Linked DNA regions of Homo sapiens: all the other regions are linked to region 1. The links come from fine-mapping of genetic effects on gene expression. A gene starts in region 1. Each other region holds a variant in brackets. All regions are shown on one strand. Distances are between the middles of the regions. Region 1 holds the start of SAMD3 (sterile alpha motif domain containing 3). Region 2 overlaps SAMD3 (sterile alpha motif domain containing 3). Region 3 overlaps SAMD3 (sterile alpha motif domain containing 3). Region 4 overlaps L3MBTL3 (L3MBTL histone methyl-lysine binding protein 3).

The links.
Region 2: its variant is fine-mapped to the expression of SAMD3 in whole blood (TOPMed, PIP above 0.99).
Region 3: its variant is fine-mapped to the expression of SAMD3 in whole blood (TOPMed, PIP above 0.99).
Region 4: its variant is fine-mapped to the expression of SAMD3 in whole blood (TOPMed, PIP above 0.99). The same link has a PIP of 0.9 or more in blood mononuclear cells.

Annotation. Positions count from the first base shown.
Region 1 is chr6:130,219,814-130,227,922 of GRCh38, forward strand. It overlaps SAMD3 (sterile alpha motif domain containing 3), which reads right to left and starts at 3,138. Exons shown (of 12, transcript NM_001017373.4): 1 at 2,881-3,138. RefSeq lists an enhancer at 3,745-3,854.
Region 2 is chr6:130,146,649-130,154,757 of GRCh38, forward strand. The region is part of intron 9 of SAMD3 (sterile alpha motif domain containing 3); the gene reads right to left. Among named protein-coding and RNA genes, the nearest start is that of SAMD3, 72 kb to the right of the region's middle. RefSeq lists an enhancer at 5,997-6,617. The variant T/C (reference allele first, on the strand shown) is at 5,017.
Region 3 is chr6:130,188,828-130,196,936 of GRCh38, forward strand. All of the region lies in intron 5 of SAMD3 (sterile alpha motif domain containing 3), which reads right to left. Among named protein-coding and RNA genes, the nearest start is that of SAMD3, 30 kb to the right of the region's middle. RefSeq lists an enhancer at 5,835-6,335. The variant C/A (reference allele first, on the strand shown) is at 3,270.
Region 4 is chr6:130,127,875-130,135,983 of GRCh38, forward strand. It overlaps L3MBTL3 (L3MBTL histone methyl-lysine binding protein 3), which reads left to right. Exons shown (of 23, transcript NM_032438.4): 21 at 5,578-5,747; 22 at 5,969-6,031. Among named protein-coding and RNA genes, the nearest start is that of SAMD3, 91 kb to the right of the region's middle. The variant G/A (reference allele first, on the strand shown) is at 4,535.

The DNA.
Region 1 (8,109 bases):
AGATCAGTAATTTCCTATGGCTTAAGTTATTAAAATCTTACTTTTATAAAAATTAGTGTCTCCATTGGTTCTTTTTATCTAGCAAGACTTATCAGAGTTGTCTGTAATTCACAACACCTCCAATAAATTTGAAGGAAAAAGTGGTGAGCACAGTCATAGTAACTTAAATTTCATATGTTTACATTTTTTTCTTTTTCTATTTTTTTGAGATGGAGTCTCGCTCTGTCATCCAGACTGGAGTGCAGTGGCACTATCTCGGCTCATTGCAACCTCCACCTCCCGGATTCAAGCCATTCTTTTGCCTCAGCCTCCTGAGTAGCTGGGATTACAGACGCGTGCCACCATGCCAGGCTAATTTTTGTATATTTAGTGGAAATGGGGTTTCACCATGTTGGCCAGGTTGGTCTCGAACTGCTGAGCTTGTGATCCACCTGCCTCGGCCCCCCAGAGTGCTGGGATTACAGGTGTGAGCCACTAGCCTGGCCAATTTTTACATTTTCAAAGAAACTAAAGAGCCACTTATCTGGGAGGTTTAGTTAAATTAATGAACAAAAATAGCAATGAGCCAGAGTCCCAGAACTTTGGAACTTTTGAGTCACAAACACCCTAGTGTTTTGGCCTTTGAGTCAAACTTATGGTTTATCCCTGCTTCTGCCTCGTTGACAGCCAAAGCTTATGGTTCAGCAACACAGATTACAGTCCTGCCAGAGATGGTAACTGTGAACTGTGCTATTGAATTTTATGAAAAGCTGGATGTGTGACTGAGAAGTCTTGATAGTTTGAAGATGTCATTTCCCTCAGAATTAATTTATAAATTCCAATTAATATACATACGTGGTTATATGTTTTACTTACTATGAGGCTAGTTTTCATGTGGAAGAATAAATAGGTAAAAAGAACGAAAAATGCTTGACAAAAGGACTTGCACTTCCAGATGTTAAAAAATGTTATGCTATTAACAGCATGGTACTGGAGGAAAAGAGAACAGATATTGAAACAGAATAGAAACTTAGAAACAGAAACATTCATATGGAAGTACTGAAAATATCTTTTTTTTTTTTTGACAGTCTCGCTCTGTTGCCCAGGCTGGAGTGCAGTGGCACGATCTCGGCTCACTGCAAGCTCCGCCTCCCGGGTTCATGCCATTCTCCTGCCTCAACCTCCCGAGTAGCTGGGACTACGGGTGCCCACCACCACGCCCAGCTAATTTTTTTGTGTTTTTAGTAGAGACGGGGTTTCACTGTGTTAGCCAGGATGGTCTCGATCTCCTGACCTTGTGATCTGCCCACCTTGGCCTCCCAAAGTGCTGGGATTACAGGCATGAGCCACCACGCCCAGCCAGTGAAAAGATCTTTAAAATTGGTGACAAAGAAGGGATTAGTCAATATATTTTGTTGGGATAATGCCTCATAACACCTACACAATAAATTCCTCAGATAAGTTAAATATGTAAATATGAAAAATTAAAAAGAGTTTAAAATAATCTAAGATTACATAATAAAAATAAAATATTGATAGATTTGACTAAAAAGGAAAAACGCATGTGTACACATATATATCACAGTGGACCCTTGAACGACACAGGGGTTGGGACGCTGACTCTGCTATGCAGTTGAAAATTTGCAAGTAACTTTTGACTACCCCCAAACTTAACTACTAATAGCCTACTATTGATCAGAATCTTAACTGATAACATAGACAATTAACACATATTTTGTATGTTATATATATTATATACAGTACTGTTACAATAAAATGAGTTAGAGGAAAGAAAATGTTATTAAGCAAATAACAAGGAAGAGAAAACATTTACTATTTATTACATGGAAGTGGATCATCATAAAGATCTTCATACTCGTCGTCTTGCAGTGAGTAGGCTGAGGAGGAGGAGGAGGAAGAGGAGAGTTGGTCTTGCTGTCTCAGGGGTGGCAGAGGCAGAAGAAAATCTGCATGTAAGTGGACCTGAGAGGTTCCAACACATGTTGTTCAAGGGTCAACTCTATAATCCATAAAACCAACTAAAAAATTAATACACCAATAGAAAAAAATAGGAATAGGTAACTCTTGAACAAAATTTTAAACCAGTATCTGAAAAATCTACATTATTTGTAATAAAAATAATTAAATACCATCTTCATTTATTCCATTGGAAAAGGTGAAAATTAGCAAGAATGCAAGGTCAGTTGTTCTCTTACACACTGCTAAGGGGAGTATAAAGTGGCACAACTTGCCCTGTCATATTATTCCCATTTTATAATTGAAAGTCCTGGAGTTTACAGGGTAACTCGCCTAAGGTTCCTTTGCTTGTAAAGGTAAAAGTGATTTGAATCCAATCTATCCAACTTTAAAGGGTACTAATGCAAGCCAAAAACATTAAAAATATTTCTACATTCTGACCCCAAAATAGCATTTCTAAGAATGTGCCTAAAGACATTAACAGAAATGAACACAAAGATGTGTGCCATAGCAATGGTCCGAATAGCAAATAAATTGGACAGATAAAATTTCCAGCAATAGGAATTGGCCAATGAATTACAGTAATTTATATTTAAAATAAAATACTATGTAGTAATCAAAAATTGTATCTAGACAAATAACTATGTAGAGAGAAACAGTCATGGATATGGTTAACTGCAAATAAATTTAAAATAGTATGATTCAGATTTGTGGAAAGAATAAAATAAAAGTAGAATGAAATGCTTGGTTACACAAAGGCTGGGAAAGCATATACTAGAAGGCAGAAGTGGCAATCTCTGTTTGGAGGAATTAATGTTTTTTGTTTGTAATCTGCCACTCTTAAATTTTTCTCAATGAAAGAATTTTATCTTAATATCAGAAAAGTTAGAGTTTTATAGAGAAAAGGTAAAAAGTGATATTTACGGATTATTGCTGGAGAGGCTTTTGGTCCATCTCTTCCAGAAGAGAAGATCAAAGGAGAGAGCACCCCTCCTCCCCAGGCAAATCCGATCAGTGGATGTGGTTCTGGTTCCTTTGTTTTATCTGAAAAATGGAAGATATCACCTACAAATCTGGAATCTTGGTTTCTCTTGAAAAATCAAAAGTTCTGGTGATACTGGGTTCATATTTCTGAATGGCAGCAACTGAGCAGTGGCTGCCCCATTGAAAGACAGCAAGACTGGGAGCCTCACAGTACACAGGAAGCATAAGGTAAGTTTGAAACAGGGTGGATCTCAGACAGCTAACGTTTGCACCTCTCAAAGGAAGAAGATTCTGACAAGTGTGACAAATACCCATGTATGTACATACATGTTTACCATAATATATCTTTGGAACATTTAATTCTTCCTTAGTTACCTTTTTTAAGCTCCTAGAAGAAATAACACTAACTAGAAAAAAAATTTCCTATATCAATCTTAAGGCAGATATAATAATAATGTATTAGAATTTAGACATTGAATTCAAAGTCAAGGACTCAAAGCTTTGCATCTCAGAAGGTTCTAGTGTCTTGAGGCTTCATTTTCTTTGTAGCTACATCATTGAACTAAAATGCACAAACCTTTATTTAGCAGACATTGGCTGAATGTAATTCTCGTTACATAGCTCAGTGTGTACGTGATAGTGCAGGTGATAGCTGAACATTTTATAGCTCTGAGTAGTGGCAAGAACTTACATTATTAAAATATTACAACTATTTTTTTGGAGTTACTCATTTGTTAGAACACATGAAAGGTGACTTCTGTATCCACCTATATTGCTCAGCTGGTAGAGTCAAGCTGGGCTCTCTTGATCTGTTAACACTAAGTGCTGGTCTGACTTTGTAGGCCTCTTCAGGAAGAAGGGGATGCAAGGTAGTGGATCTTCTTAATGCAGTGTGACTCAAAGTGAAACTTGGAAACACCCTTGCAGGGCGTGCGATGGGTGTGACTCGCTTCTTCAGTACCCTGCAGCTCAAACCCCTAGAGGGAGCATGCAGACGGGCAGGTCATGGGGAGCATGGGCTCCTACCCCATGGCAGCACCTAGGGTTGAGTGTTTACAGCTCCAGAAGCCCCAGTGGGAGTGTGTTACAGTGCAGTCTTTCAGCTTAGCCATCCGCAGGTGGCTTGTGTTAATCAGCTCAATTAGATCCTCTGCCTTATCGCAAGGACAGAGGGCTTTCTGTATCCCAAGGTTCTTGCCTTAATGTACCAGAAAAATTGAATCACATGTAGGCTTGGAGAATGGGTGCACAGTTTTATTGACTGGTGGAAGTAGCTCTCAGCAGATGGATGGGATCCACAAGGGGAATGGAATGGGAAGGCGGTCTTCCCCTGGAGTCAGGCCGCTCAGTGGCCTGACTCTCCTCCAACCACCCCCAGGCAAATTCTACGTGGTCCACATCATACTGCTGTTGATGTCCTGCCAGTCTGTCAGTGTATTCTGCCAGTGTGTTCCTCTTGATGTCCAGCCGCTTGTGTCTGTGCCCGCTAGGGTCTCAGGGTTTTTATAGGCAGAGGATGGGGGTGTGGCGGGCCAGAGTGCTTTTGGAAAATGCAACATTTGGGCGTGAAAACAGGAGTGCCTGTTCTCACTTACGTCCATGGGTACAGGCCTGAGGGTGGAGCCCTAGCCAGGGACCCCATTCTTCTCTACCCAGCACTTCCCTGCCCGCCTCCCGTATCAAAAGCAAAGCACAGATGGGAGGTGTGGAGACACAAAAAGGCATAGGACCCTGTGTTTCTCATGAGTGACAAATGCTCATGCTTCTGCCAGCCCTAGGTTCATGTGAGGACGGGCCAGAATGTTCAAACTTTTGTTTATGCAAAAGCACTCTATTTATTTATTATTATTATTATTATTATTATTATTATTATTATTATTTTTGAGATGGAGTCTCCCTTTGTCACCCAGGCTGGAGTGTAATGGCACGATCTCAGCTCACTGCAACTTCCACCTCCTGGGTTTAAGCGATTCTCCTGCCTCAGCCTCCTGAGTATCTGGGACTACAGGCACGTGCCACCACGCCCAGCTAAGTTTTTGTATTTTTAGTAGAGATGGGGTTTCACTGTGTTAGCCAGGATGATCTCGATCTCCTGACCTCATGAACCGCCTGCCTCGGCCTCCTAAAGTGCTGAGATTACAGGCATGAGTCACCACGCCCAGCCCGAAGCACTCTTTTTAGAGTTGGCCCAAAAGGTAAAATTCATACCAATTGGTAGGCTATAGTCCATCATTAAATATGAGTCTGTGTGTCTGAATTTGTGTGTATGTGTGTGTGTTAGAGAGAGATAAAGAGAGACAGACAGAGACAGAGAGCAGTACTGAGCAAGAGAGTGAGTGAGCATGGGGAAGAAAGTAAGGAGGAGAGGAAAAGGTTATGTGAATGATTAACAAGTAAAAAATAATGTTACTGAAACACCAGGGGTTCAGTTTAGGTCCTGCTATTTGCTGCACAGAAAGCCAACGACTGAGACAACAAGTATTGCCAAGGAAGAAGGCTTTAATCAGGTGCTGCAGTCCAGGAAATGGGAGCTCAGTCTCAAATCCATCTTCCTGATCAACTAAAATTAGAGGTTTATATAGCGGGGAAGAAATGTTAAATATGTATGGGAAAACAAGAATGTGGAAGGAGTAAGGGAGCAATTACAATGAATGAGAGGCTGGTATCTCATTGTCTGGATCTGGTGAGTTTCAAGCTTTAAAACCAGAAGGATTAATTTCTATATTTAAGAAAAACTGTCTATGGGACTACTGGATCAGTTTCAGTAAGATAGGCATATTAGAAATAAAGACTGTAAGGATTATAATAGCACATAGCTTTCCTCTTTAGATTGTTCCAAGGTAAACTTATTTTTAAAAATCCTTACATTCCAATCTTAACTGCTGCCTACTCACTTCTACCATTCTTTGATTACATATGGGAACAAATGTGGCACACCAATATAAAGGTGAGAGTAGTTGGAAGAAGAGGAAAAATATTTATTCATATATTAGGTCATCCAAAAAGCTTAAGATATGAGAAAATTCAGTATTTCTATAACCAGGCCAAAAACTAACTTGTCATTTCAAACTCCTTGGCATTTGGAAGCTTGAAAAATGCTTGCCTGGGCACCTATTCCTGGTAAAGTGCTAAGGAGAGACGCCTAAGGAAATTGAGGGGTCAGCCTGATGTTGGCTTAATCCTGGCTCCATTGTCTTCTGATCACATCACCCTTCTTATCTAATTGATGTGATCACTTGTTGAGTTATCTCATCCAGTTATTCTCTTCCTGGTACAGTCTTCTATCCACTGTTGCAGAAGTATCTGCAGTAATTCAGGACAGCGCCGCTTTTCCCAGGAAGGGGTATTAGTGAAGCTGTCATTCTACCTTTCTGGAGAGCCTGATGGGCAGACTGGAGCTTGAGGTGTTATTGAAGGGTGCAGAGGTTGCTGCTGATCCCCTGTGTTTCTCTCTGTTGAACTCAGAATTCAGAATTTTATTTTTAAGAATGATTTTCCAACTTACCTAATATAAGAACAAGGGGTGTACTTCATGAAAATATTGATTCCTAAGCCCTTTCTTAGAAGATTCTGATTCAGGTGGGTAGAGTGAGTTCTTATAGTATTTCTAATCATTACCATTGATTCTTATGATCAGCCAAGTTTGAGGAGCAATTGAAAGATTTATTATGATTTATTTCCAATGTACAGAGCCCTATAGGTCAAAGTTAGCACACCATCCCCAAATGTCATTATGCACAAATTATACCTTTGAGAAATGTGTATAACACTTTATAAAAATAATTATGAGGGGCCGGGCACCATGGCTCACGCCTGTAATCCCAGCACTTTGGGAGGCCAAGGCGGGTGCATCACCTGAGGTCAGGAGTTCAAGACCAGCCTGGTCAACATGGTGAAACCCCGTCTCTACTAAAAATAAGCTGGGCATGGTGGCAGGCGCCTGTAATCCCAGCTACTGTCAGTGTAGCTTTTCTGTAGGCAGGAGAATCGCTTGAACCTGGGAAGCGGAGGTTGCAGTGAGCCGAGATCATGCCATTGCACTCCAGCCTGGGCGATAAGAGCGAAACTCTGTCTCAAAAAAAAAAATTATTTACATCACTGAAATTAAATTAGTAACATTGTGTTTACAAGGATTTTTCATAAAGCTAAGGATGTACAATAAATACAGTAATCTGATATTTTTTACATTTAAATAAATTGTGCAAAAATATACATAATGTAAAGTTTACCGTCTTAACCCTTTTTGAGGGTACAATTGAGTGACAATAAGTATATTCACATTATTGTGCAACCATCACTATTATCCATTTCCAGAACATTTTCATCATCCCCAAAATGAAACTCTGTACCCATGGAACAATAACTCCCATATTCACCCTGCAGCCCTAGTCCCTGATGACCATTATTTTGCTTTCTATCTCCATGAATTTGACTATTTTAGGTATGCCATATAAGTGGAATCATACAATATTTGTTTTTTTGTATCTGGATTATTTCTCTCAGTATAATGTTTTCAAGGTTCATTCATGTAGCTTGTGTGAGAATCGCCTTCATTTTTAAGGCTGAGTAATATTCCATTTGATGTATATACCATATTTTGTTTATCCATTCACTTGACAGTGGACATTTGGGCTTTTTCAATCTTTTGACTATTTTGAATAACGCTGATACGAACACAGGGGTGTGCAAATAGCTGCTCAAGTCTCTGCTTTAGTGGTCTGCTTTTGATAGTTCAAAAAATCAGAGGAATCTTGCCAGGCACGGTGGCTCATGCCTGTAATCCCAGAACTTTGAGAGGCCAAGGTGGGTGGATTGCTTGAGGCCAGGAGTTCAAGGCCAGTCTGGCCAACATGGTGAAACCTCGTCTCTACCAGAAATACAAACATTAGCCGGGCATGGTGGCATGTGCCTATAGTCCCAGCTACTTGAGAGGCTGAGGCAGGAGAATCGCTTGAACCTGGTAGGCAGAGGTTGCAGTGAGCCAAGATTGTGCCACCACACTCCAGCCTGTGCGACAAAAGCAAAACTCCATCTCAAAAAAAAAAAAAAGAAAAGAAAAATCAAAGGAATCATTCGACGTCCTCTGATTTCCTGCTGCAGCATTAGCAGACACGGAGACCTATGTGGATCTTCCACACCTGGTAAAATCCTCTCGTTTCCTAAATGGAA
Region 2 (8,109 bases), 73 kb before region 1:
AGAAACTAAGAGTAGACAGAGGTAAACAGTGAAAAACGATATATGGCTGGGCACGGTGGCTCATGATTATAATCCCAGCATTTTGGGAGGCCAGGGCAGGAGGATCACTTGAGCCCAGGAGTTTGAGACCAGCCTGGGCAACACAGAAAAACCCTGTCTCTACAAAACACAAAAATTAGCTGGGCATGGCAACATACGTGTATAGTCTCAGCTACTCAGGAGGCTGAGGTGGGAAGATTGCCTTAGCCCGGGGAGATCGAGACTGCAGTGAACCGAGACTGTGCCACTGCACTCCAGCCTGGGCAACGTAGTGAGACCCTGTCTCAAAAGAAAAGAAAGAAAAAGAAACAATGTATGTGCAGATTTGACTACAAGTTCAAAGCAAAACCAGTTTACTTTATGGAAGTCCCTTTCCTCAAACTACCCCATCCTACCACTGCCTGAACTCTTCCCCCTCAGAGGATTCCACCACCACTCCCCCTCCTGTTTTTGACAGTGGCATTATCAGATTATTAGCCACCCACACTCCAGTGAATTAATTTAGTCATTGCTTTTCCTAAAACTATAAAGAACAATCACATACTACCCACTGGGCCTCATTGTTCCTTGAATGTTTTGGTAGATCATAAATTGCCTAGAGATTAGGTCTGAAAGTTAAGTTGTCAGAAAGCTGGAATGCATAAGGCATAGTGGCTTTGTTACCAGGCAACCCACAGTGGACCACTAATCTAGATTAATACCGTTAGAAAACCGTTTTCTCAGCAGGAAGATGTGAAGGGAAGGATGAAGGAGGTGAATACGCCACTGTTCTGGGCTCATAGCCTAAGAATTTCTTTTCTGACTTTTTATGTTTTGAAATAATTTCAAGTTTGCATTAAAGTTGCAGAAATAGTAAACAGAACTTACAAGTGCCCTCTGTGCAGCTTCCCCCAATTTCTGATCCAGTTGAAAATGAGCTGTAGATACAATGCCCCACTATTCCTTAATACCTCATTGTGTATTTCCTAAGTACAAGAGCACCCAAATTCAGGAAAATCTACTACACATTCCATTCAAATTTGCCAGTTGTTCCAGTCATATTCTTAACAGGCCCAGGATCTAATCCAGGATCCCATATGAGATTTAGATACCACGCCTCTCTAGTCTCCAGTCTGAAACAACTTGTTAGTTTCCTTGACGGTTTCTGAAAAGTGGAGGCCAGTTACTTTGTAGAACATTTCTCCTTGGAAGTTTTATGATATTTCAAGATTTATGCATTTCTGGCAAGAATATTAGCATTTCTCACTGTGTCCGGAAGCACAAAATGGTAACTGGTCCCAGTATTGGAGATAATTTTTATTACTTGATTAGAAATGGAATTCACCAGGTTTTTCCACGTAAAATTAATATATGTTGTATTTTATGAGGAGATACCTTGAGTTTATGTCAATATCTTGTTCCTTGTATAACTTTGATCCATCAGATTCCACATCCATTAATGATTCTTGCCTGAATCAAGTACTACTACAATAGTTGCCAAATGGTGACTTTTCTAATTCCTTTCTTTCTACATGGATTAGTTGGCTTTCTATTTTAAGATAGTTTCTTTTCTTCCACATATATTTACTTACTTATTTCTATCACTACAGGTTAATCAATTCCCATTTTACCCAAACGGTTACAAATCTGATCCTTTCATTATTTATAGAATTGCTCGAATTGCCCAGACTTGGCCAGTAGGAGTCGCTTCAAACAGACTGCCGTGCCCTCTTGGCATGTCCTTATTAGTGTGCAAGCACTTCCTTCATTTCTGGCATTACACAGTATTTCAGACTCGTCTTGACTCGTCTTGGTTTGTTGTTGTTGTTTTCATTTTTGTTTTGCCCCCAACCCTGTAGTGAGCTATTTCTCCACGAACCCTAATTCCTTTTCATGAAGAATGGCTTTAAAAACTAAGATTTCAGGCCAGGCACTGTGGCTCATGCCTATAATCCTAGCACTTTGGGAGGCCAGGGCAGAAGGATCATTTGAGCCCAGGAGTTTGAGACCAGCCTGAGCAACATGGCGAAATCTGTCTCTACAAAAAATACAAAAATTTGCCAGGTATGGTGGCACATGCCTGTAGTCCCAGATACTCAGGAGGCTGAGGTAGAAGGATCACCTGAGCCCTGGGAGGCCAAGGCTGCAGTGAGCCATGATCATGACACTCCAGCCTGGACAACAGAGAGACTTTCTCAAAAAAAACCCAACCAAAAAAAACCAAGATTTCAGCCCTGGTGTGCAACTTGCTACGGAGATGTTATTGCTTTAGACTTTCTCATAGAAGAAATCTAGGAAATGTTTGAATTTACATAAACAAAGGCACCCGTTGATCCAGAAACACCAATAACTATATATGTAAATATTAAATAGCCATACATAAAGACTAAAACCATGAATTCACATTGATACTTTCAATTCCAAACCAATACCACAGGGCTTTTCCTAACCTTCCCCTTCCCAAGCTTCTAACTCTCTTCAACAGTGAGATTCCTGGCTCCCATTATATCTCAGTGTATTTACTTATGAGCACTAACATCTGTGTAGCCAAGCTCCCAGCTGTGAATGGTCAGCCACAGGAAAGCCTCCAACACTTATACACTGCTAGTGGGAATGTAAATTAGTTCAGCCACTGTGGAAAGCCGTTTGGAGATTTCTCAAAGAACTTAAAACAGAGCTACCATTTGACCCAACAATCCCATTACTGGGTATATACCCAAAGGAATATAAAGAAAGACGCATGCACACATATATTCATTGCAGCACTATTCACAATAGCAATAACATGGAATCCACCTAGATGCCCATCAATAGCAGACTGGATAAAGAAAATGTACATGTACACCATGGAATACTACATAGCCATAAAAAAGAATGAAATCATGTCCTTTGCAGCAACATAGGTGTAGCTGGAGGCCATTGTTCTAAGCAAATTAATGCAGGACTAGAAAACCAGATACTGCATGTTCTTTCTTATAAGTGGGAGCTAACCACTGAGTACACATGGACACAAAGAAGGGAACAATAGACCCCGGAGTCCACTTGAGATTAGAGGGTGGGTGGAAGGTGAGGATCGAAAAACTACCTATCGGGTATTATGCCCGCTACCTGGGTGATGAAATAACCTGTACACCAAACCCCCACGACATGCAATCTACTTATATAACAAACCTGCACGACGTATCCCCTGCTGAACCTAAAAGTTGGAACAAAAAGAAAGCCCCCCTTTTCACAACCCCAGATTATGTCCTACAAATTAATCATCTTAATCCTTTTTCTTTCTGTTACTCAGACTGGATAATTTCTATTAATCTATCTGCAGATTCACAGCTCCTTTCTTTTCATTTTCCAATATGCTTTTAAGCCTACGCACATGGTGATGTTTTCATTTCAGATAACTGTTCTTTTCAGCTCTGAATTTCAATTTGGTTCATGTGTGTGTGTGTGCGCGCGTGTGTGTGTGCGTGTATTTCATTTCTCTGCTGAGATTCCCTATGGTGATGATACATGGAATTTACTGGTCTTATCCTGTTCCCCACCGTCCTGTCCTGAAGCAGCTGGCTTGCCAGACTGGTGGAGTGGCCTGTTGAAGACTCAGTTACAGCACCAGCTAGGTGGCAATACCTTGTGGGGCTGGGACAAGGTTCTCCCAGGCTGTATAAGCTCTGAATCAGCATCCAGCATACAGTGCAGTTTCTTCCATAGCCAGAATTCATGGGTCCAGGAACCAAGAGTTGGAAATGGGAATGGCGCCGCTCACTGTAACCTCTAGTGATCCACTAGTGGGGAGTCTGGATTAAATTATGTTCCTTTAAAGGGTGTTAAATTTTGTTCTGATAGGCAGATAAATTATGGTGGATCTTCTGGTCCTGTCAGACTTGATTTTATCATTTCTTTCGGCAATTCTGTTTTGTTGTTTGTCCTTAGTCCTAGCTAAGGTCCTGGCTCAAACTTAGGCATGGTTCTCACTCATGAGGCATTGTTTTCTGGAGTCTCAGATGAATGCTGAGGTGTTCTGCAGGGTCTCTACACACTGGGCCAGAATTCTTTTTTTTTTTTTTTTGAGACAGAATCTCACTCCATCGCCCAGGCTGGAGTCCAGTGGCACAATCTCGGCTCACTATAGCCTCTGCCTTCCAGGTTCAAGCCATTCTCCTGCCTCAGCCTCCTGAGTAGCTGGGATTACAGGTGTGTGCCACCACACCCGGCTAATTTTTGTATTTTTAGTAGAGACAGGGTTTCACCATGTTGGCCAGGCTGGTCTCGAACTCCCGACCTCAAGTGATCTGCCTGCCTCAGCCTCCCAAAGTGTTGGGATTACAGGCGTGAGCCACCACACCTAGCCTGAATTCTTATTAGCAACACTGTGTGAAGTCTCGGCTCTCAGCCAAGGATCCCCAGGGGATCCGTGTGTAGACTTCGGCCCAGCCCACTTTCCTCCAGTGCCTGTCCTACAAAGGCCAGCTGCTTCATCATTCCTCAACTTTAATCTCTTCCTGTGCAGCTCCATGAGACCTCCGCATGCTGCTTGCCTCCCACCATTCTGTACAGTGAGCTAGAAAGTAACCCATGCACAAAACTGAGGCACATCTTATGTCTTTCCGTTACCAAGGATCAGGGTCCTGCATTGCCTGTACCTTAATGCCTGAGTGCAGTTGCCTCATACATATTTTTTTTTTCCAGCTTTATCCATGTTAACAGTGGGAAGACTAGACCAGTACCAGTTACTCCATTTGGGCCAAAACCAAACTCAAATTCTTTATTTTTTAAATTTATTTATTTATTTATTTTTAACACGGAGTTTCACTCTTGTTGCCCAGACTGGAGTGCAGTGGCGCAATCTCGGCTCACCGCACCCTCCGTCTCCCAGGTTCAAGCGATTCTCCTGCCTCAGCCTCCTTAGTAGCTGGGATTACAGGCATGTGCCACCACGCCCGGCTAATTTTGTATTTTTAGTAGAGACAGTGTTTCTCCACGTTGGTCAGCCTTGTCTCGAAC[T/C]CCTGACCTCAGGTGATCTGCCCGCCTCGGCCTCCCAAAGTGCTGGGATTACAGGCATGAGCCACCATGCCTGGCCGATTTTTTTAATTTTTTGAGACTTTATTAGCTGGCGATTCTCACGTACTTCACTTAAAGAGATGATGATTGAAATTGTTTCTCAGGAAGGCAGAAACTATGGCATCTGAAAGGATTTTTTGGAAAATTTGGGGAAGGGTTTCAGTTTGTGTTTGGTATTTTCCTTCTCAACTCCCTCCTACTTGTCTTGTGCAACATCCAGTAGATCCCAGTAACACATTCCTAGTTGATAATATTTTAGATAATCTAATAAAGTAAATGGTTACATTCTGAATTTTTAAATGCCTTGTTGAAAGAAAGTTTTTTGAGGAAGGAGGTTAATGAGCATGGAGGTGATGGGGGGTCAGTGTTAACAGCCAGGACCACCGCCCACCCCGGCTGCTGCTGTTCTGCCACCCTGTCTCCACCAGCTCCCTAAGCACTCAGTGTTTTCACAATGGCAGGAGCAACAGGCGGTGGGGGTGGTTTGGTGCAGGGACAACTGTCCTCTTACGGGATCATTTGTTAACTAGGTATTTGCGAGGTCAAACTTGCTTTTATTTTAGGAGGCACACAAGAGTTTTATAAATTGGAAATCCCAGCTGCCTAGGGCTGAGTCAGGGAGGTACTTCCTGGAAAAACCGAAAATGATTCGTTCTTTTGTCTAAAACAATCAGGTCGGGCACGGTGGCTCACAGCTGTAATCCCAGCACTTTGGGAGGCTGAGGCAGGTGGATCACCTGAGCTCAGGAGTTCAAGACCAGCCTGACCAACATGGTGAAACCCCATCTCTACTAAAAATATAAAAATTAGCCAGGCGTGGTGGCGTGCATCCGTAGTCCCAGCTACTTGGGAGGCTGAGGCAGGAAAATCACTTGAACCTGGGAGGCAGAGGCTGCAGTGAGCCAAGATTGTGCCACTGCACTCCAGCCTGGGCGACAAAGTAAGACTCTGTCTCAATAAATAAATAAATAAATAAATAAAACAATCAACAGGCAACTCTATTCAATAAGTACAGTCATTACAAAAACCATACTCCATATTTTGGATATAAAGGGTGAAATACTTGAGGAATGGTGCGGAAGATACACCTATGCCACAGCAGGAGGCCTGGACAAAAGCACAGGGGACAGCATCAGGTCTGAAATCTCTCTGCTCCTCACATAAGCTATGACAGACCTCCACCTTACTGTCACCAATGGTTCTTTGAAAAGCTGCTTAACATAGTCCATTTATATTCATCACTAAGCCTTTGTAGGCCACACTCCAATGAAGACCCCTAAGGCTACGACATTAGTGATCACAACAGCCTTACCAACCTCCACTAATTCACTCAGCATTCACAAAATCAAGATTACATTGCTGTGTCACACGTGGTGCTCTGCTAGGCACTTTGGGAACTGTTAATATTAACACGTGCTCCCTACATGTAAGGAGTGTATAGACCGTAAGTTTGACAGGCTTTTGCTTTAAAACTGTATTTTGCAGATGTGTCCATTTGGCATACTTTTCTAACAGCCAGAGATGACTGGCTATTACAGTTCCTTACAACCTGAAGATTAAGGGGAAACAAGCGAAAGCCACAGTATGGTTGCTGAGAGGATTAGGTAGATTAATCCGTGGAAAGCACTGAGAACATGCTGTTACAGAGAAGCATTCAGATATTTGCTACTTATGTTTCTATTAAAATAATACAGGCAATTCTTATTTCCCTTTGCTCAGAAGAAAAATATGTAGATGTTTCATGTTTAATTTGGTTAATTGAATACATAGAATTTCTCCATGAAATATGTTCTCGGGTAAAACCTTTGATGATCTTTCATTATATACCACCACCAAAAATTACACTAAAATTGTGAAAGAACCTTGAATGGCCACTCTAAGTGAACTAAATGGAAGGGTATTTGATTGATTTACCCATTAAATTTCATATATATATATATATATTTATTTATTTATTTATTTTTTAAAATTTGAGACAGGGTCTCACTGTGTCACCAAGCTGCAGTACAGTGGCTCAGTCATGGCTCACTGCAGCCTTGACCTCCCCAGGTTTAGGTGATCCTCGTGCCTTAGCCTCCCAGAATAGTTGGGACTACAGGCACGCACCACTAAGCTGGGGTAATTTTTGTACTTTTAGTAGAGATGGGGTTTTACCAGGTTGCTGAGGCGGGTCTTGAACTCCTGGGCTCAAGCAATCCACCCACCTCAGCCTCCCAAAGTGCTGGGATTACAGGCATGAGCCACCATGCCTGGCCCTAAATTTCATATATATTTAAGGACACTTATGAAATTATTTGGGATCATAAAGGAAACGTATTTTTACTAAGGATGCATAATAACAGTTCCTTAATAAACTACCTTGATTACATAAAAGCATGAAAGGGAATAATGATTCACACTGTCAAAATACCCCTAAGTGATGATCCGCCACCCTCCACAATATGTCCAATGACAGAGAACTCTTTAGTTCTGAAGGCAGCTGGTGCCTATTATCTGAATATGCTACTGAAATTCTTTTTTTTTTTTTTTAATTTTTCCTTTTTCATGGTTAGGAAAGAGGGTGGGTGGGGAGGGTCTGCTTCCTGAAATTCCTATCAAATGGCTCTAGTTGCAGCCTTTGGGCCTCACACCCCACTGAGATTCACCCCCACTGTCTTGCTATGTTGTCCTGTTACCACTCCAAGAGGAAAGAGGGAAAAATCCATTTGGACACTGTAATCCCAGCACTTTGAGAGGCTAAGGCAGGCAGATCACCTGAGGTCAGGAGTTCAAGACCAACCTGGTCAAGATGGTGAAACCCCATCTCTACTGAAAATACAAAAACTAGTTGGGCATGGTGGCACACACTTGTAGTCCCAGCTACTCAGGAGGCTGAGGCAGGAGATTCGCTTGAACCTGGGAGGCAGAGGTTGCAGTGAGCTGAGATCGCAGGCCATTGCACTCCAGCCTGGGCGACAGAGCAAGACTCTGTCTGAAAAAAAAAAAAAAAAAAAAAAAATATATATATATATATATATATATGTATGTATATATAAT
Region 3 (8,109 bases), 31 kb before region 1:
TTGTTTATTTGCTGATTTATACCTCCTTTACTTTCTGTGAGAATTTGCACATGGCTTGGTTCCTGCCCCCTTAATCCTCTGTATTGATTTTTGCTTTCTTCCTCAGAGAACTCATCCAGCCCCATGGCCTCAGCTCTGAGCTTTATGTTGATGGATTGTAAATCTATCATCAATAATCTGTTCTCCATGCTCCATCTTAGATCTCCAACAACAACTTGTACATTGTTCATCTCATACTCAACAAATCCAAAATAATTCACAATCTTTAAAAAAACCAAAAAAAAAAAAAAACCAAAAAACAAAAACTAGGCTCTCATTTTCTAGGAACTGAATTGTGTTCCTTTCAAATTCTATATGTTGAAGCCCTAACCTCCAACGTGACTGTACTTGGAGACAGACCTTTATGGAAGTAATTTAGTTAAATGAAATCATAAGGTTGGGCCCTGAGATGACGGGATTGGTATTCTTAAAAGATCTGTATGCCATGTGAGGTCAGAGAGAAAATGTAGCCATCTGCAAGTGAAAAAGAGGGTCCTCAACAGAAATGGAAGAGGTCAGTGCCTTGATCTCAGGCTTACGGCCTCTAGAACCACCAAAAAATAAATTTCTATGTTTAGGTCACCAAGTCTATGGTATTTGTTTGGCAGCCTGTGCGGACTAACACAGAATTCCAATTTCCTTGTTTCTTTTACTGTACCCGTTTCTGTTAGCAACTCAAGCTTAACATCGTGATGTCTTTCACCTTCATTTTTCACTCCTAAGTGTCATGAAATTTTCCCTACATTTTATCTCTGTATTTATTTACTTATTTCCATGGTTCATGCTACTACACTAATCCAAGTATTCGCCACTCAAATGTGGACTGCTTCAGTAGTCTCCTAGCAGAGTTCTGCTGGAATGGCTTAATGAGCTCCCACTGGACCAGCTGTCTCAGAAACATTAACCATAAACATTAAACACATTTTAAAAAAATTAACTGAAAACACTGAAATGTGAAAAACAGAATGCAGGTTTTGAAAAGAAGCCTACACTTAGAACAAGAGGAAGACACTGGGCCTTTGATGAGGTTCCCTTTTCATGGCTTTTGGCCTGAAGGCAGGCCTCATGCTGTGCTGCCAAAACTCTAATAGAAAAACCTGTAGTATTTCTGGACTCAAAGACTTGGGGGCAGGATTTCGGGCAACCCATTATGTGGAAAAGGAGAGGAAAACCCCAGAAAAGAATGAGCTAATGAGGGAAAACTCCACAATCTGTGTATAAACTGTTCAAATCTCTGGATGATCCTGAACTACACATGTGCATAACTGGACTAAAGATAAAAGAACTCAACAGATTTTAACTGACACCAGGAGACTGAGTTTTCCACGTGAGTCCAACCAATTTTGCGGTTTCCTAGAACAAAATGTCAACGCTCTTTGGGCGAACACAACAGATTCAAGAGACTCCACACTGTAACATTCATATTTAATCCAAAATTATGTAACGTACAAAAAAAAAACCCAGAAAATGTAATCCATCCTCAAGAGTAAAGATAATCATTAGAATGTGATGCTAAGATGAACCAGATGTCGGCAAGGATTTTAAAGCGGCCATTCTAACAATGTTCAGTGAATTAAAGGCATATAGGCCAGAATGACTGAAATGATAGGAAAATTTAGCAAAGAAATAGAAATTGTTTAAAAGAAACAAATAGAAATTTAGAAGAAAAAAATACAAAATTTGAAATTAAAAATTGTACTAGATAGGATTAATAGCAGAATGGAGATTTAGGAGGAAATAGTCATTGAATTTGAAGACAGATCAACAGAAATGATCCAATCTGAAAAACACTGGGAAAAGAGATTAAAAAAAAATAAGAAAAGTAGCTCATTTTTTCTAATTGCAGCTCCTCACAATTTATCCCCCTATATAGCCATAAACCCTTCTCCTCTGTGATCCATCATCCAATTTTACATAAACACCGATTTAATCATGTCGGTCAGTGGAGGGGCCAGGTAGAGCTGGCCAATGGCTTCCAGGGCTACTTTTGGAACCAAGACATAGTTGAAGGTCCAAGCAAAATAAGGCAATCTTGCTTGACACTATAATCATGTCCAATTTCAAACACTATTTCTGGTACTGAAACACCACTGGGAACCAATGTAGAATTTAACTTCAAATTTAAAAGTCCCATAGTTTAAAGACCAAGTATATAGAAGACCTGCAAGTCCACATTCAATACTTGACCATACTAGATATCTGCCTTTTGCATGATTTCACATTTTCCAACTGTCATATGCATGATAATCTTCCTGTTTGCCGACAATGTAACCCATATATATATTGAGTGACATGGGTGATTCAGGATTCTTCTACCCCCAACAATTAGACACCGTGAGAGTTTACTATGCAGTGAGAGTTTACTATGTCAGTCTCTTTGACCAATTAACATCTTCAGTATGTGGTCTCCCTGAGAGGAGAGTTACTGCTTCCTATTTCTGAGGACAACTGTGAGCCAGGCCCATCCCTTAATTATCATCCCTTTGGGTTCCTGGGGCTCCCCAGGAAGAGGAAAATAACTATGATTTGTTGACATGTTTGGATATAAACATTCGCATTTGGAAGGAAAACTGAGTCTGTTCTCTGTATTTAAACCCCTTTTGGAGCTATTGAGTGTTTGGCAGTTATTTTATCCCCATGAAAGTAGATAATATTGCCTTAGGGAAAAAGTAAGCTCTTGAATTTTCAAACTAGAAAGCTTCAGTATTTCTTTTCGAATTAGAGGAAGCTTAAGAGTTTAAAACTGTTGCTTCCTTCCTTTTTTTTTTTTTTAACTGAGCCGCAGTTTCTCGCTTTGTTGAAATTGGTGCTTCCAATTTCATTGACTTAAATTTAAAGGAATTTTTTCATTCTCTTTTTACTTCTACAAATAAAACAGGTGATAGGATTTTAAAATTCTATGAGAAAAATAAAAGTCAATGGTCTGTAATTTCTTAAAATCCCAAATTTGAATTCTTCATATTTACTAATTAGAAGTTTTTGTACTCTCTTATTATCAACTGCTACACAATGTGAATTCTCAGATCCAGTCCAGACACAAGCCTTACTAAATCTCCAGAATGCACTATGCATGTGTTAGCAGTTTCTTCGCTTACTTTGTTGCCCTCAGTTGCCCTCATTCTTCTAGGTTTATCTCAAGCCTTCTTCTCAGGTAGATTTTACTCACTGCCACACTCCTGCCATGCATGTGGTTCTCCTCATCTGAATCCCCCACCTGGCCTGGTCCAACA[C/A]TGGCCCTGTGAGCACTCAACTACATCTAGTCTCCTTATCTGTCTTGATTTTCCTACGTCCTTGTTGAATGAAATAGTTTGTGACAAAAATATTGTAGAAAGGTTTAGCAATGCTTGAGAAAGATATAAAATATCAAATATAACATTGTATGATTGATAAAGATGGTCTGTAGTTCTATAAACTTGTGTTTTCTTTTCTTTTTTAAGAGACAGGTGTCAGGCCTCTGAGCCCAAGCTAAGCCATCATATTCCCTGTGACCTGCACATACACATCCAGATGGCCGGTTTCTGCCTTAACTGATGACATTCCACCACAAAAGAAGTGAAAATGTCCTGTTCCTGCTTTAACTGATGACATTGTCTTGTGAAATTCCTTCTCCTGGCTCATCCTGGCTCAAAAGCTCCCCCACTGAGTACCTTGTGACCCCCACTCCTGCCCACCAGAGAACAACCCCCCTTTTTCCTTTACCTTCCCAAATCCTATAAAATGGCCCCACCCCATCTCCCTTCGCTGACTCTCTTTTTGGACTCAGCCACCAGCACCCAGGTAAAATAAACAGCCATGTTGCTCACACAAAGCCTGTTTGGTGGTCTCTTCACACGGTCGCGCATGAAATTTGGTGCCGTGACTCGGATCGGGGAACCTCCCTTGGGAGATCAATCCCCTGTCCTCCTGCTCTTTGCTCCGTGAGAAAGATCCACCTACGACCTCAGGTCTTCAGACCAACCAGCCCAAGAAACATCTCACCAATTTCAAATCCAGTAAGTGGCCTCTTTTTACTTACTTCTCCAACCTCCCTCACTATCCCTCAACCTCTTTCTCCTTTCAATCTTGGCGCCACACTTCAATCTCTCCCTTCTTTTAATTTCAATTCCTTTCATTTTCTGGTAGAGACAAAGGAGACACGTTTCATCCGTGGACCCAAAACTCCGGTGCCAGTCACAGACTGGGAAGGCAGCCTTCCCTTGGTGTTTAATCATTGCAGGGACGCCTCTCTGATTATTCACCCACATTTCAGAGGTGTCACACTACACAGGGACACCTGCCTTGGTCCTTCACCTTTAGCAGGAAGTCCCACTTTTCTGGGGGAGGGGCAAGTACCCCAACCCCTTCTCTCCATGTCTCTACCCCTTCTCCGCCTTTCTGGGGGGCAAGAAACCCCCAACCCCTTCTCCTTCACACTTAGCAGCAAGTCCCACTTTTCTGGGGGAGGGGCAAGTACCCCAACCTCATATCTCTGCTCCCCGATCCCTTATTTCTGTGCCCTGACCTCTTACATCTCTGCACCCCAATCCCTTATTTCCGTGCCCTGACCTCTTATCTCTGCGCCCTGATCCCTTATTTCCACGCCCCGACCTCTTATCTCTGTGCCCCAACCCCTTATTTCTGTGCCCTGACCCCTTTCCCGCTTTTCTGGAGGGTAAGAACCCCTGAACCCCTTCCCTCTGTGTCTCTACTCTCCCTTTTCTCTGGGCTTGCCTCCTTCACTATGGGCAACTTTCCACCCTCCATTCCTCCAACTCCCTTAGCCTGTGCTCTCAAGAACTTAAAACCTCTTCAACTCACACCTGACCTAAAACCTAAATGCCTTATTTTCTTCTGCAATGCCGCTTGACCCCAATACAAACTCGACAGTAGTTCCAAATAGCCAGAAAATGGCACTTTCAAGTTTTCCATCCTGCAAGATCTAAATAATTCTTGTTGTAAAATAGGCAAACGGTCTGAGGTGCCTGATGTCCAGGCATTCTTTTACACATCAGTCCCTTCCTAGTCTCTGTGCCCAATGCAACTTGTCCCAAATCTTCCTTCTTTCCCTCCCTCCTGTCCCCTCAGTCCCAACCCCAAGCGTCACTGGGTCTTTCTAATCTTCCTTTTCTCCAGACCCATCTGACCTCTCCCCTCCTCCCCAGGCTGCTTCTCGCCAGGTCGAGCTAGGTCCCAATTCTTCCTCAGCCTCCGCTCCTCCACTCTATAATCTTTTTATCACCACCCCTCCTCACACCCAGTCTGGCTTACAGTTTCATTCTGCGACTAGCCCTCCCCCACCTGCCCAGCAATTTCCTCTTAAAAAGGTGGCTGGAGCTAAAGGTATAGTCAAGGTTAATGCTCCTTTTTCTTTATCCGACCTCTCCCAAATCAGTTAGCATTTAGACTCTTTTTCGTCAAATATAAAAATCCCAGCCCAGTTCATGGCTTGTTCGGTAGCAACCCTGAGACACTTTACAGCCCTAGACCCTAAAAGGTCAAAAGGCTGTCTTATTCTCAATATACATTTTATTACCCAATCTGCTCCTGACATTAAATAAAACTCCAAAAATTAAATTCTGGCCCTCAAACCCTACAACAGGATTTAATTAACCTCACCTTCAAGGTGTACAATAATAGAAAAAAGTTGCAATTCCTTGCCTCCACTGTGAGACAAACCCCAGCCACATCTCCAGCACACAAGAACTTCCAAATGCCTGAACCACAGCGGCCAGGCATTTCTCCAGAACCTCCTCTCCCAGGAGCTTGCTACAAGTGCCAGAAATCTGGCCACTGGGCCAAGGAATGCTCACAGCCCAGAATTCCTCCTAAGCCGCGTCCCATCTGTGCAGGACCCCACTGGAAATTGGACTGTTCAACTCACTTGGCAACCACTCCCAGAGCCCATGGAACTCTGGCCCAAGGCTCTCTGACTGAGTCCTTCCCAGATCTTCTCGGCTTAGCAGCTGAAGACTGACACTGCCTGATCACCTTGGAAGCCTACAGGACCATCACAGATGCTCTAGGTAACTCTCACAGTGGAGGGTAAGTCTGTCCCCTTCTTAATCAATATGGAGGCTACCCACTGCACATTACCTTCTTTTCAAGGGCCTGTTTCCCTTGCCTCCATAACTGTTGTGGGTATTGGCGGCCAGGCTTCTAAACCTCTTAAAACCCCCCAACTCTGGTGCCAACTTAGACAATACTCTTTTAAGCACCCCTTTTTAATTATCCCCACCTGCCCAGTTCCCTTATTAGGCTGAGGCACTTTAACTAAATTATCTGCTTCCCTGACTATTCCTGGACTACAGCCGCATCTCATTGCTGCCCTTCTCCCCAACCCAAAGCCTCCTTCATGTCCTCCTCTTGTATCCCCCTACCTTAACCCACAAGTATAAGATACCTCTAATCCCTCCTTGGTGACCGATTATGCACCCCTTACCATCTCATTAAAACCTAATCACCTTTGCCCTGCTCAATGCCAAGATCCCATCCCACAGCACGCTTTGGGCATTAAAGCCTGTTATCACTCGCCTGCTACAGCATGGTGTTTTAAAGCCTATAAACTCTCCTTACAATTCCCCCATTTTACCTATCCTAGAACAAGACAAGCCTTACAAGTTAGTTCAGGATCTGCGCCTTATCAACCAAATTGTTTTGCCTATCCACCCCATGGTGCCGAACCCATATACTCTCCTATCCTCAATACCTCCCTCTACAACCCATTATTCTGTTCTAGATCTCAAACATGCTTTCTTTACTATTCCTTTGCACCCTTCATCCCAGCCTCTCTTCGCTTTCACTTGGACTGACCCTGACACCCATCAGGCTCAGCAAATTACCTGGGCTGTACTGCTGCAAGGCTTCACAGACATCCCTCATTACTTCAGTCAAGCTCAAATTTCTTCCTCATCTGTTACCTGTCTCAGCGTAATTCTTATAAAAACACACGTGCTCTCCCTGCCGATCATGTCTGACTGATCTCTCAAACCCCAACACCTTCTACATCCTAGGCATGGTTAGATACTTTCGACTTTAGATACCTGGTTTTGCCATCCTAACAAAACCATTATATAAACTCACAAAAAGAAACCTAGCTGACCCCATAGATCCTAAATCCTTTCCCCACTCGTTTTTCTGTTCCTTGAAGACAGCTTTAGAGACTGCCCACAACCGAGCTCTCCCTGACTCATCCCAACCCTTTTCATTACACACAGCTGAAGTGCAGGGCTGTGCAGTCAGAATTTTTACAGGACTGGGATCGCGTCCTGTAGCCTTTTTGTCCAAACAACTTGACCTTACTGTTTTAGGCTGACCATCATGTCTCCGTGCAGTGGCTCCTGCCCCCCTAATACTTTCAGAGGCCTTTAAAATAACAAACTATGCTCAACTCACTCTCTACAGTTCTCATAACTTCCAAAATCTATCTTCTTCCTCATACCTGATTCATATACTTTCTGCTCCCCAGCTCCTTCAGCTGTACTCACTCTTTGTTAAGTCCCACAATTATCATTGTTCCTGGCCCAGACTTCAATCTGGCCTCCCACATTATTCCTGATACCACACCTGACCCTCATGACTGTATCTCTCTGATCCACCTGACGTTCACCCCATTTCCCCACATTTCCTTCTTCCCTGTTTCTCACCCTGATCACACTTAGTTTATTGATGGCAGCTCCACCAGGCCTAATCGCCACACACCAGCAAAGGCAGGCTATGCTATAGTACAAGCCACTAGCCCGCCTCTTAGAACCTCTCATTTCCTTTCCATCGTGGAAATCTATCCTCAAGGAAATAACTTCTCAGTGTTCCATCTGCTATTCTACTACTCCTCAGGGATTATTCAGGCCCCCTCCCTTCCCTACACATCAAGCTTGAGGATTTGCCCCCACCCAGGACTGGCAAATTAGCTTTACTCAACATGCCCCGAGTCAGATAACTAAAATACCTCTTAGTCTAGGTAGACACTTTCACTGGATAGGTAGAGGCCTTTCCTACAGGGTCTGAGAAGGCCACCGCAGTCATTTCTTCCCTTCTGTCAGACATAATTCCTCAGTTTAGCCTTCCCACCTCTCTACAGTCTGATAACAGACC
Region 4 (8,109 bases), 92 kb before region 1:
ACGTTTATTATAGAACAATTAGCAAATACAGGGAAGCAAAATGGAGAAAATCAAAATTATGTGTAATTTTATACCATTTTCTGAATGTGGGGACCTACTTTTTTAGACTGTTTCTATCTGAAGTGTACAAAATACTTTGTAACCTGCAGTTTGCATAAGTATTTATACTTCTTGCAACATAATGTTAAATATTCTCTCTGTGGATGGATGTAGCATCACTTAACAAACCAATCCCCTACTGTTGGGTTATCTAGGCTAGTTATTTTGTATTTCTGACTGTTATAAATGTTTTTGCAGTAAACTTTAGTAGTGATTAGGGTTAGGGGGGTGTGTGTGTGTGTAATATAAAACACATAAAGTGGCTTATGTAAGGTAAAAGAGGCTTATTTCTCTTCCACATAAAGGAAGTACAGAGCTTGGTCCAGGATTTAAATGGTACTTAACAGTGTCAGGAAATCAGATTCCATTTATCTTGCTGCTCTGCCTTGCAGAGCACGTATTCCCAACACCATATCATGGTTAGAGGTGGTTGCTGGAAGGCTAGCCATTAAAGTACTATTCTACCCAGCAGGAAGGAGGGACATATTGGGGGAGTGGTGGTGGGTGTGCTGTCAGCCTTTAAGAGCACTTCCAAGTCCAATTAGCAGAACTCACAGGATGTTGTAGATTCCACTTCTGCTTATGTCCGTTAGTCATATGGCCACTTTTAGCTGAAAAGGAAGCTGGGGAATATAGTCTTCATCTCAGTACAGTTACATACGTACCAGAGACCCTCCACTGTAACTGACTTTGAGATGATTGTTAGCGTTCGTGCTTCATTATTTTCTTAAGATGAACTTCTAAACTTGGAATTGTGGAGTCAGTGGATGATAACTCAGAAGGAATCTTTTCCAGGTGAGAGAAAAGACTTTTGCCCAAAGCTGCTCCTTGGAGTGTTTTGTGGTTTCTTTAGCATACCAGTGCATGATGAAGATAAGAATGGGAGACATTCTTTTATCTCGCTGGAAGGTGCCATCCATCCGATCTATCCAGAGAGCATCTGCTGACCCTGTTGGAGGTGCACAGGTGCAGGGTCGGTAGAGGCACCTCTTACTGGGGCTTTGCCAGTGAATGTTTGAAATTTGAGTATAAAAGAGATCCTAACAGTACATTCCTTATACCGTGCAATATCTCATGGTGTGTAGGGCCAGGGATATTGGTGGTGCTGTGTTCTAAGACTGGAAGCTACTTTTCAGCTGGTCCTGTCTGACTTGTAGGTAGATTTGGATCTTCAAATTTGGCACACAAAAATCTTTTTATCTTTTTTTCAACAAAACATTGGTCTTTATGCCTCTTATTCATGACTAGAGGTCTTTAGTGTCTGTCTCTTTCTCATACATATGTATAGGCCTCACTGAGAAAATTTTTTAAAAGTAGTGATTATTTGATTAAACATTAGACTGAATAGATTAATTTGTTCATAAACATAATGAATATTATTATTTTTCTCTGCAGTATACTGTGTCCATTTTAATGTACTGTCACTTTTCTCTTAATTCTTATCTTTCCACTGTTGAGGATGACAGCTTTGGTTCTACAAATAAAATTTATCAGATTGTTGAATCAAGAATCAGGAAGGATGACCATTCCTTCCATATGGTAATTTTAGTTATTCGCAGTCAGCCTAAAATATTTTTTACTCACTGTGGAAGCACACAACCCGAAACCAAGTGGGGCAAGTGAGAAAAGAGTTTGATCACATACCTTTGGTCAATTTTCATCACAGAAAACTTCAGAAATATAGAAAACTTCTTAAAAATTTTCTTTTCCATGCATGTCAATGGTTTGAGAGGAGAGTGGTACGAAATAGGGTCCCAGGCAAAGGGAGGTGGCTGAAATGTCTTTAGAACACGAGGCTCTGTTTCCCGAGGCATACTGTGCACATTTAAACCTACTCTTCCTTACTCTTGGCACTGAACCACCTACTGGAGCCAGAGTCTATTTGCATTTATTTTAGCCTATGTCATAACATGTTAAAACAAAAACCTGGAGTCACTTTTCTTTGCAATTCAAGGAATGCAGTACAAATTTGCTCAAATGAAGCTGCTTTCTTTATTCCTTTTGGATTAAAATCATAGGAGGTGGCATGCTGTGTGGCAGATAACATCAGTTAGCGAGGAAGACTCAGCAAAAGGAAGGAAAGTCTTAATGCGAAGGAGGCAGAGTTGGTACTAGGATTGGAAGAGTATGTATATCTAGGCCTATTTATCGTATCAGGCTTAAAGACATGCAGAGGCAACCACAGACATAAGGGCTTTGGTGTTTTTAGTCATTTCCTTAGAATGGGTTAGTTATTTTTCTAAGGAACAATGTGCGGAACATTAGAAATGAATTGTGACTAATACAGCTTTTAGCAGAAAATAAAATGGAAGAGTAGGTCTGCAGTGATAGAATGAACAGTGCTGAGTGTTAATAGAACATAAACAGTAATAGGATAAAGACTATGGCTTTGGAAAAGACTAATTATATGGCATGCACTCAGGATACAAATTATAAAGTCAGCCCTATGGTATTACTGTAGTGTAGAATTGGAAATCTTACCATTTCATATAAAGCTGTCTTATAAAATATGTACAAATATTGTATTTCAAATAATAGCTAAGCTCTTTAGAATACCTGAGATTAAAAAGATGTTTTTAAGTTACTCCGTATTTTGCTACACAAAAATTCCTTAAATCTGGGCAATTCAAAAAGAAAAAGAGAATAAAAACAAACTTTCTGCTTTATGTATTTGGTTCATAATAGATATTCAATAAAATGGGATGAGGACCTGCACCTTTGAGGTTGATTGGATGAAATGTGGAAAGAGGGATAATGATGGCTTTTTAAAACATATTTGAAGATTTGAAATGTTTCATGTGGAGCAGACACTAGAATTTTTCTGTATAAGCTCAATGAGGTAGTACCAGAACCAGTGGGTGTCAACTCCAGTAAAATAGATTTTTGACTCAGCATAGTGACTTTCTAGCATTCAGAGCAATTCAAATTTTGGATTAGGCTAGTTTAAGAATAAACTTATTAGAAAACTGTAACAGAACAATAAGAAATAAATTTTTTAAAAATTTACCACTTATAACAGCCTCAGGAAACATCTGATACATAGGAATAAATTTAACAAAAGATGTGCAAGATCTCTACCTGAAAATGACAAAATATTAATGAGAGATATTAAAGAAGAGCCAAAGAAATTGAGGGATTTAGCTTCTTCATGGATTGGAAGACTCAATATTGTAAAGAAGTCATTTCTTAACCAAATTTATCTATTGGAAATTTGTCTAGTAGAAATAAGCCCTTTACAAAAGAGCCTCTCTATGTGGACAATAAACATAGGGAAAGATTATCATTAATCATGGAATGCATTTGTAACCATAATGTGATACCACTATACACCCACTAAACGGTTAAAAAGAAAAAGATAGACAATACCAAGCATTGGTGTGGAGGTGAAGCAATTGGAACTGTCATATGCTGTTGGTAGGTATTCTGCAGTTGTTTTGGAAAGCTGACAGGATTTACCAAAGCTTAATGTACACACATGCTGCGACCTCAGAGTTTCACTCTTTGGTATATGTGCAATGGAAACACATACGTACATTCAAGAAATTGTTACCAGGAAAGGGTCGCAGTCCAGACCCCAGGAGAGGATTCTTGGGTCTCGCGCAAGAAAGAATTTGGGGCAAGTCCAGAGAGTGAAGTGAGGATGCAAAAGTGTATTAGGAAAGGAAAGGAATAAAGAATGACTACTCCAAATGGTTGCCCATTTTTGTGGTTATTTCTTGATGATATGCTAAACAGGGGGTGGATTATTTGTGCCTCCCCTTTTTAGACTGTATAGGGTAACTTCCTGATGTTGACATGACAATTGTAAACTGTCCTGGCGCTGGTGAGAGTGTAGCAGTGAGGACGACCAGAGGTCACTTGGTTTTGGTGGGTTTTGTCTGGCTTCTTTACTGCAGTCTGTTTTATCAGCAAGGTCTTTATGACCTGTATCTTGTCCACATCTCCTAGCTCATCCTGTGACTTAGAATGCCTTAACCATCTGGGAATGCAGTTGTCTCAGACCCAGTAGGTATCAGCCTCATTTTACCCAGCTCCTGCTCAAGATGGAGTTGCTCTGGTTCAAACGCCTCTGACAAAATAATCTGTACAAGAATGTTTGTAATAGCACTGTTTGTAATAGCACCAAATTAAAAACAACTCAGATGCTCATTGTTCATGATCTCCAAATAAATTATAGAGTATTCACAGCCACAAAAACCATACAAGAAAGAGAAGGTAACTTCTACTACTCACAACAATGTGGATGAATCTCAGAAACATGCTGTTTAGAGAAAGAAGCCAGATACCCAAGTTTCCATTTTAAATACAATTCAAAAAAGGGTAAATGAATCTATGGTGTTAGTAGTCAAGGAAGTGGTCACCCTTGACAGATGAGGTGCGATTGGAAGGGTGTGCTGGCCACGTTTTGTTTTCAGTCAGGGTGTTGGTTACATGG[G/A]TGTGTTCACTTTGTGAAAATTCAGTGAACTTTACACTTAGTGATTTCTGTGTCTTTCTGTAGATCTTAGAGATATAAAAGCAAGGCTTTGTGATAGAATTGAGGTGTCCTTGTAACTGAGCTGGTGTGTGAGCAGAGAGGAAATGTATGGGAGGTGCCTTTCTTCTGAGGTGCTTTGAATACAGAGTTTTCAGAAAAGGTTTCTGTTCTAAAGGACCATAAGGAGACGACGATTGACAGCTCTAAGTCAAGCGTCCAGAGGACAAAAATCCTTTGCTAGAGAATGGCCGTTTTAGGAAAGCAGCCATAAAACTAGCTTTGGGTTCAGAAGCTCTAACATAAATAGAATATTCAGTAGGGTTTTTTTTTTTCTTTCAAGAGATGGGACCTTGTCTTGTTGCCCAGGCTACAGTAAGAATATTTAGTAGTTTTAATTTTGATCTGAACAAGTAAAAAATTACAAAAACATTTGCATTTCTGCTGTTTTATTTTTATTGCAATAATTTCATATCCCTGTCAAAAAATTGAATTGGCTATTTAAAAAATCAGTATGATTAGTAAATAAGAAGTTAAAAAACCAAACCAAGCCCTGAGACAAAAGGAGAGAGAAAGTATGCCAACTGTGAATACATGGTAAGCACAGGTGTTAGACGTGAGATGCAACTTGGCTGTTACCTTTACAACATCCAAAGCAGAAAGGGGAGCAAATAAACAACTTCCTAGAATAAGACTAACTTTCCTTCCCATTAAAACTTTGAGGCACGTTTCTTATCTGAAGCATTAAAGAGACAACGTTGAACAACATAATGAAGCATGTCTTTAGTAATGAGTGCTGTAGCAAATGATATCAGTTGAATTTACAGGTTGTTTTTTATAGTGACCTTCAGTAAAGACAAAGAAGAGCCTATTCAATAGTATAATGCTGAAAGGAACCAATGCTTTAACCACTCCCACCTCCAGTCTCGTTATCTGGGAGATGCACGGCATTTGGGGCTTTCTTGCTGCTTTCAGAGAGTGATTTCCCATTTGTTTTCATTGACCAGGTGCCCGGGAAGAACCCACCGTCCAGCAGGCACAGCGTCGGTCAGCTGTCTTTCTGTCCTTTAAGTCCCCAATTCCATGTCTGCCCTTGCGCTGGGAGCAGCAAAGCAAACTTCTTCCAACTGTCGCAGGAATCCCTGCCAGTAAAGTTTCCAAATGGAGCACAGACGAGGTATATTTTATTTTCTTTGCTGCCCGACACCAGATACAGGATTACTGGCTTAAGAGGTGTGGAACATTGAGCGTAGGTAGCGTTTAGTCTTTTTTTTTCTGAAAGAGAAGAAATTATTGTGAGAGAAATAACTAATGCATATGGGTTAAATGTTTTGAACCTGTAGCATTTAGATTCTGACTGTGTTTTTTAACTGGGAATTTTGATATTGCTTTTGACAGGTGTCAGAATTTATACAGAGCTTACCTGGGTGTGAAGAACATGGAAAGGTATTTAAAGATGAAGTAAGTATTCCACTAAATTGCAATATGTTACTTAATGGGATCAAAGCACTGAAATGCAGTGGAAGGTGAAATGTGTGGAATTGGCAGAGTCAAAAAGAGATGGGGTGTGTTGAAATTGACAAATTGATGTATACTAACAGGCAGTATGAATCAGTTGTATAAAAATGTCTTTGTATAAGATGAGATGCATAAGAATGTTTGTGAGTACCATTTTATGATACCCCACAGCAGTAACACTAGGCTCCTTATAAAAAGAAAACCCACAGAACTTAATAGCATGCATTTATATAGTTTATAGCACAGAGGAAGCCAAAGAAAGAAAGAAGCAACATTTTCTCTTTTTAATAAAGTGAAATTAGTTTCCATTATTTTATTTTCCAGTGTCATTCTAACAACACCATGATTGACTCCATTTGAGGTTTATAATAAGTAATATTAGCATTATGTCTAAAAAAATCCCTTAAGTCATATACATTCCTCAATAATGTTTATAATAAGATATTTATCACAGTCCACTTTTGGAAGATTATTTTATTAGTTGTTTTCAACTCCCTCTCCAAAACTTCAATATAAGGGGTGATTAAGAATGATATCACTTACAGTGAGCACTAGAATAAAAAGGAATCTGGTTTCTAACTTTTAATTCTGTAAGCGTACAGCAGGAGACCCTTTTCAGTAGAGACCTTTAAAAATAAGCCACTTGCCTGTCATCTCCTCCAAGCAAAGCAGTCAATTACCCCTCTGATTTTGGCTGTGTCTACTCCTGCCAGAAGGCAGAAAGTAGACTGAGTAATCTCAGAAGGTGCTCTCCAACATCTGCTGTCTACAGTTACACGCATACACAACTTGTTTGCCCCTATGTGTAAAGCTCAACTGTTAAGAACAGCACACTTTCCATTTCATTGCAGGAGTATAGACACAGCTAACAATCCAGCCACCAGTTGTCAGTGTTGTTATACTGTTAGGTATAATTTATGCGTTAGATGAAAGCTTGTTAAAATGCACAAGGATCTGATTTCCAACATCCTTTTTCTGATTTATGTTCTTATTGTGCAAAGGTTTTATTTTCTCTCTGTTTGATCTTTAATTGGCAGTTATTCAGATTTTCTTTCCCTAAGTCCTGAGTGTCTTCACTGATACTCTCAATTCATTTTCTGTTTTTTCCTTTTTTTTTTTTTTTTTTTTAAATCGAGATGGAGTCTTGCTCTTCTCTCCTGGGCTAGAGTGCTCACTGCAACCTCCGCCTCCTGGCAGAGGCGATTCTCCTGCCTCAGCCACCTGAGTAGCTGGGATTACAGGTGCCCGCCACCACGCTCGGCTAATTTTTTTTGTATTTTTAGTAGAGACTTGGTTTCACCGTGTTGGCCAGGCTGGTCTCGAACTCCTGACCTCAGGTGATCTGCCCACCTCGGCCTCCCAAAGTGCTGAGATTACAGACGTGAGCCACCGTGCCCAGCCTGAATTCATTCTGTATCGCTGAGCAGACTTAGAGCCACATAGGGAGCTGTTGGTCTGTCTTGGAAAATGTCATGTTGTCATTACCTTTGAAAATAATAAAGCATTTTTGAAAATAAATTTATAATGCATCTCTTTTATAACTTCTGTTTTTTTATTCTGTTGTTATCTAGATAATCCCTATAGGTTTGCTCTATTATTCAGTTTGAGTAAGATTCAAGTTTAAATTCAAAATGAGATGCTATTTTTTGAGTAATTTTTTTTATTCATGGCAGATTGTCTTTGGAGATGTTCCTCAGTTACCAAATATGCTCAAAGCTAGATCCTTTTCTGGAGGAGTGAGATAGTTAATATTCTCTGTCGATATGAATTATTCATTCATTTACTCCTTCATTCATTCATCTTGTGCACATTTGTTAAATTCCGACCATGAGTATGTTACTTTGTGTCATGCTCTTGTGAGAAGGATGATTCGAAAATAATGAAACCTAGTCCTTGTTCTCAAGTGTCTCACAAGGTCAGTGGGTTTGGGTTTTGAGTCCTACAAGTAAACCATAGTACAAATCTAACCGAAGTCTTATAAATCATCTTTAAAAGGCAAAGGACAAGTATTCAGATAGGCT